Regions from separate parts of the Homo sapiens genome. Here region 2 is linked to region 1. The links come from fine-mapping of genetic effects on gene expression. A gene starts in region 1. The other region holds a variant in brackets. All regions are shown on one strand. Distances are from middle to middle. Region 1 holds the start of ARL5B (ARF like GTPase 5B). Region 2 overlaps NSUN6 (NOP2/Sun RNA methyltransferase 6).

The links. PIP is the estimated chance that this variant, and not a neighbour inherited with it, causes the effect. A credible set is the group of variants that fine-mapping cannot tell apart.
Region 2: its variant is the best candidate, but not a certain one, in a credible set for the expression of ARL5B in whole blood (TOPMed, PIP 0.56).

Annotation. Positions count from the first base shown.
Region 1 is chr10:18,657,752-18,660,664 of GRCh38, forward strand. It overlaps ARL5B (ARF like GTPase 5B), which reads left to right and starts at 1,680. Exons shown (of 6, transcript NM_178815.5): 1 at 1,680-1,932. The coding sequence starts at 1,887. It also overlaps a transcript of NSUN6 not described here. RefSeq lists enhancers at 509-628, 1,329-1,458 and a silencer at 1,769-1,848.
Region 2 is chr10:18,578,662-18,581,574 of GRCh38, forward strand. The region is part of intron 8 of NSUN6 (NOP2/Sun RNA methyltransferase 6); the gene reads right to left. Among named protein-coding and RNA genes, the nearest start is that of CACNB2-AS1, 41 kb to the left of the region's middle. The variant G/C (reference allele first, on the strand shown) is at 1,666.

The DNA of each region.
Region 1 (2,913 bases):
TACAGGCGCGTGCCACCACACCCGGCTAATTTTTGTATTTTTAGTAGAGACAGGGTTTCACCATGTTGGCCAGGATGGTCTCCATCTCTTGACTTCGTGATCCACCCGCCTCAGCCTCCCAAAGTGCTGGGATTACAAGCATGAGCCCCAGCGCCCAGCCAAATGTCTGCATCTTCATACAAAAATGCTTTGTTCTTTTCAGAAATGGTTTCTTAGAAATCCGAAAGCCAGAAAAAAAAAAAAAAAGCAGAATGTGGTTTACATCCATGTCTAACAATTGAAGAAGCTGTTACGGAATCTAAAGTTTGTTTTGTGATAATGAAGCTAGGACTAAAAATGTCCTTTTAAGCCATTACTTACACAAACACAAAATTATTCACATTTATGGTCCAACTGATAGTCATGAAAGTTAAGTTTGCATAGGGTCAGTACATTCTTTTTCCTCTACATAGGAGGTTGAAACTTGCCTTTAATGTTGTAACGTTGGAGCATATTATCCTGCATCTAAGTCTTAAAGGGTCTTTAAACCATAGCACTGGGAGGACGTAAGTCATACATTCTCCTTGTACAGGTTAACTCAAGAGTTTGGCATGTTAAAAGGCCACGTTGCCAAGGTTAAAATCCAACCATCTGACTGAAGTCAGAGTCTAAAAAAATTTTAAGCTTGCTCCTCCGTCAACTGGTTTCAAGGACATTCAGTTTCGTTTCATGCCAGGCTGTGAAGCTTTTCTTTTCAATGCTAGAACCTAACCATGGAAAGTGGAATTGAAAACAATTACACAGCGAATTGGCTTATGCGTGGACTTCGATCTGGGATCCACGAACATACCTAATGCTTGGCAAAATGGAGAGGGGTGCTATGTGTTATTATTATGTGTTATTATTAATCACATAACTGAACTCTGTGGCTCCAGGCCTTCCATGGCTCGTCTCCCAATCAATTCTTTTCAGAACTAAGAATCACGACAGGGGCCGGGCGCGGTGGCTGAGCCTGCAATCCCACCACTTTGGGAAGTCGAGGCAGGAAGATCGCTTGAGCCCAGGAAATTGAGTCCCCCTGGGCAACACAGCCCGACCTCGTCTGCAATCGATCAATCAATCAATGAGTACATAAATGCATAAGCCAATGAATGAATACGTGAATGAATAGATTAATAAATGAATGAAGAAGAATCACGGCAGAACTCCTAACCCCTAGCACGCCTGCCTAGGGGAACAGGAATAAGTCAGGAAAGAAACACTCTTCACTTCTGTGAGTTTTCTAAGAGCAGCAAACGGCGGCTGCTCACTTAGAGAACCTATGGTCTTTCCTGGTTTTAGAGGTCAGGGAAGCAGCTGCTAGCAGCAGAGACTCAAATCAAAGGGGAGTCCCACAAACGTTTTGAAGGCTGACATCAGAAGGAGCACGCACCAAGGGAAATTTCCCACCCCCCCGCGATACCGCAAATTCCCAGCCGCTGGCCGTTTGGGACTCTCCTACCGGAAGTGAAACCGAAGAAAACGCCACGTCGAAGGCGTGGGTTGCCGTAAGTGCGCCGTCGTCACGCGCCTAGCTTCCGGCGATGGGTGGTCCTGGGATCCGGAGGGGAGGCGGGGTGGAGGCGGGGCTTGGGGCTGTGGAGAGGCTGTGGTAGGTAGGTGGGTACAGACCGAGGGGACTACGGGTCGGCGTTGGGCTCAGTGGGCTCGAAACAAAGGGCTGTCCGGTGGGGATTCGTCGCGGCGCCTTCTGAGTGGTCGGGTCGAGGCTTCTCGGCCTAGCAGTGCCCTCGCTGCGCGATCTCAGGCGGGTTCTCCTCGGCTCCGCGCAGCCCGCGCCGCGGTGGGGGACCCGGCGCAGCGGCACCTGCTGCCGAGGGACCCCGCGGCCCGCCCCGGTGCTCGTGATGGGGCTGATCTTCGCCAAACTGTGGAGCCTCTTCTGTAACCAAGGTGAGAAGAATGGAGCTGCGCGGCGGCTCGAATCCGAGGCAGAGGGTCCCGCCGCCGATGGGGACACCGGAGACAGGGGACAGAGCGTTCGGAGACGCGGAGGAGGAAGGGACTTAGGCCAGGGGGCGGGCAGAAACTCAGTGTTTTAGACCTGGAGGACGTACAGGAGAGACCTGACGTGTGGGAGAAATAGGGAGGCAGAAGAGAAGGTATTTGGCGTCCCAGAATCCAAACTGAGAATGTTTGGATATTGGCGAAGTAAAGCGGGATACAGCTAATGATGCCAGGAGGCGTATGGAGGGCCTTTCTCGTCTTTATTGAAGCGTGCTTGTGTCTATGTGTATCCCCAGGATAAGTGTCCGCCCAGAAACCTAGAACTTTTTTTTTTTTGAGTAATGTAGGTGCTTTGTTTTCCCGCCCTGCAGTTTGAGCCGTAAGCCAGTGCACTTTCACTCTGATTTCGCCTCCTTTCCTCTAGGACTTGGGAATGAGTTGTCCTATTCAGATGCACGAGTTTTCCAGCATCTTCATTGTAAACTTTTTTTTTTAAAGCATTTAGTTCAGAAACTAAATGCTTTTCGGTTTTGTGTAAGACGTTACGTGTCCGTAATTAGTCTGTAACAGGTAATGAGACACCTGGAAGTGGCAGGTCCAAAGGGCCGAGAAGTTGCAAAACCTGTTCTGAATCAGAATGAGATGTGATGTCTTCTGAAGAGAGAAAACACCCAGACCAAAAAAGGGGCCGACGATAAGTTAAAGTTTGAGGCGTCCTTTGAACAGAATGGTTTCTTAGTAATTGAAACCAGTTTTGAAAATCAACTCGTTTCATTTTACATTTAAGAGCCGGGCATCGTTAATAAGCCAGTTTTATTTCCTTTTATGTTGGTACCAATTTGTTACTGCTAATGTAGGTATCTAATCTTTTTCTGGATTTAAGAAGTTGTGGAGGTAATGGAATGGCTTTAGTTGACTTGTTCTGTA
Region 2 (2,913 bases), 79 kb before region 1:
ACTGAAATACCTTCTGGTTGTCTTTTAATCCTGTGGCCAGCTGAATTCCAGTAAAACACAGCTCACAACAGTTCCTTAAAGGCCCAGGCTACCTGAAAGCCCACAAGCTACCTGTTTTAAAAATGGAATAAGGTGCCCAAGCTCCGTATCAATGATCTTGTACCATGACGAAGAAACTATGGGCTGCATTTCAGCGCACTCACCCTCAATCATATGTCTTACATAGGACACATCTGTAAATGGTGAACCTGTCAACGGTAATGGTAATGTGTCATCTCTGCATTCACCACTTCTAATATTCTCACTGAAGTACTAGATGATAATTATATAGACATTAAATTATGAAACTCCTACAAATATTCCAGACCTTTCTTAGAACAGGCTAGGATCACCAGAATGACCCCCAGACATACCTGGCGTGAGTGAAGTTTCTTTTATTCAAAATTAGAAAGGCATGAGATATATGCTAAGAATTATTTATAGTTTAAGAATACTCATATTTTAACTTTTTTATTACTATTTTTTTTTTGAGACGGAGTCTCGCTCTGTCACCCAGGCTGGAGTGCAGTGGAGCGATCTCGGCTCACTGCAAGCTCTGCCTCCCGTTCATGCCATTCTCCTGCCTCAGCCTCCTGAGTAGCTGGGACTATAGGCGCCCGCCACCACATCCAGCTAATTTTTTGTATTTTTAGTAGAGACAGGGTTTCACCGTGTTAGCCAGGATGGTGTTGATCTCCTGACGTCGTGATCCACCCGCCTCAGCCTCCCAAAGTGCTGGGATTACATGCGTGAGCCACGTCGCCCGGCCTCATATTTTTATTCATTAAACGCTTTTTCACATAATATATAGTCCTGTGTGAATGCAAAATATCTGAACCAGGTTTCAGTCAATTTAGATAGTTTATTTTACCAAGGTTAAGAATGCGTCCATGACACAGCCTCAGAAAGTCCTGAGACATGTGCCCCAGGTGGTTGGGGGTACAGTTTGCTTTTATGCATTTTAGGGAGACATGAGACATCAATCAATATGTGTAAAATGTACACTGGTTCTCCGGTAAGGTGGAAGTGGGGCTTCCAGGTTAGGAGTAGCTAAGAGACAGAGGGTTGCATTCTTTTGAGTCTTGATCAGCCTTCCACTGAATACACAATTTAGTCTGCCTCAATAAATCTGCATTTTTACATAAACAATAGGGGAGAGAAGGCAATCATATGTGCATTTGTCTCAGGTGAGCAGAGGGATAACTTTGAAAAGAATGGGAAGCAGGTTTGCCCTAACCCGTTCCCAGCTTGACTTTTCCCTTTAGCTTAGTGATTTGGGGTCCCAAGATTTATTTTCCTTTCGCACCTGTAACTACACCTAGGGATCTCTGAAACTGTATTACTTTGAGGTGGTGTGTAATTTAGGAACAATTTTGTGTTAAATGAGATTGACATGACTTCTGGAATAAGGGCATGGGGAGTTTTGCAGACGCTCTCGCCAGCGGCAAAAACAAAAACAACCCTTTGAAGCCTCTGGAAAATGTCCTAAGACCACACAGCAAATGAAGAAACATTTATTTAAGAAAATCAACCACAGCTTAATAAGAACAGTGAGAATCTGTGCATTTGTGCCATGACCCGCTCTTTTCTCCCTTTTCCAACTACTTTCCACTTCTCCGAAGCTCA[G/C]AATAAGATCCACTTCATGTGGGTGCAGCCAAGAACACAAGACTCCCTCTCTCCTTAAGCTCCCAGTCAAGGAATGAAAGGACTGTGGTCTCTCCCTAAGAGGGACAGGCTTGTCAGCTTGTTTCATGTGCCCCAGTTCCACCTTGCACAGGCTATAATTCCAGATAAGAGCCAGAGAACTGGGGGCTATCTTCCTCCACCCAGCCCCCATTCATAGGTGGGAAGCTCTACCCAGGCACAGTAGGCTAAGAGTATTTAACCCCTGATTACCCTCACCCAAGAGCCAAGTGAAGAGGTTCCATCCCAGGAGAGGCAAGCCAAAAGACCAGAGGCTGCCACCCCAGCCCAGCATCAAGAGTCTGGCTCCAAGAGAAACAAACCACTGCCCTGCCCCCATCTCTGCAGCAGTGGCCCAGAGGTTTTACCCAAGATGCAGAAAGGAAGAACAGAGTTCTGAAGCTCTCCCCAAGTGAACTTGCTAGCAGGAGTAACTCTGTTTGGGTCTGCAGCAACCTCAATTCTTGCCCCCTCAGGAGAAAGAGTTCGACCAAGGGGCACAAGGCAGAGTGATCTTGGTTGAGGCAAATTTTAGAGCAGGAGTGAAAGTTTATTAGAAAGTTTAAAGCATAAATGAAAGAAAGTAAAGTACACTTGGAAGAGGGCCAACTGGGCGACTTGAGAGATCAAGTGCATGGTCTGACCTTCTGACTTGGGGTTTTGTATGCTGACATACTTCTGGGGTCTGGCGTTACTTCTCCTGATTCTTCCCTTGGGGTGGGCTGCCAGCATGGACAGTGGCCTGCTCGCACTTGGGAGGGGAGCGTGCACAGTGTGTTTATCAGAGGCGTTTGAACCACCCATCTTGAATGGGGGCTGGGTAAAATAAGGCTGAGACCTACTGGGCTGCATTCCCAGTAAGTTAAGGCATTCTTAGTCACAGGATGATACAGAAGATCAGTACAAGATACAGGTCATAAAGACCTTGCTGATAAAAACAGTTTGCAATAAAGAAGCCAGCTAAAACCCACCAAAACAAAGATGGCGATGAAAGTGACCTCTGGTGGTCCTCACTGCTACACTCCCACTGGCACCATGACAATTTACAAATGACATGGCAGCATCAGGAAATTAACCTATAAGGTCTAAAAATGGGAGGTATGAATACTCTATCCCTTGTTTAGCATATACTCAAGAAATAGCCATAAAAATGGGCAAACAAGCCAGCCGTGGTGGCTCATGCCTGTAATT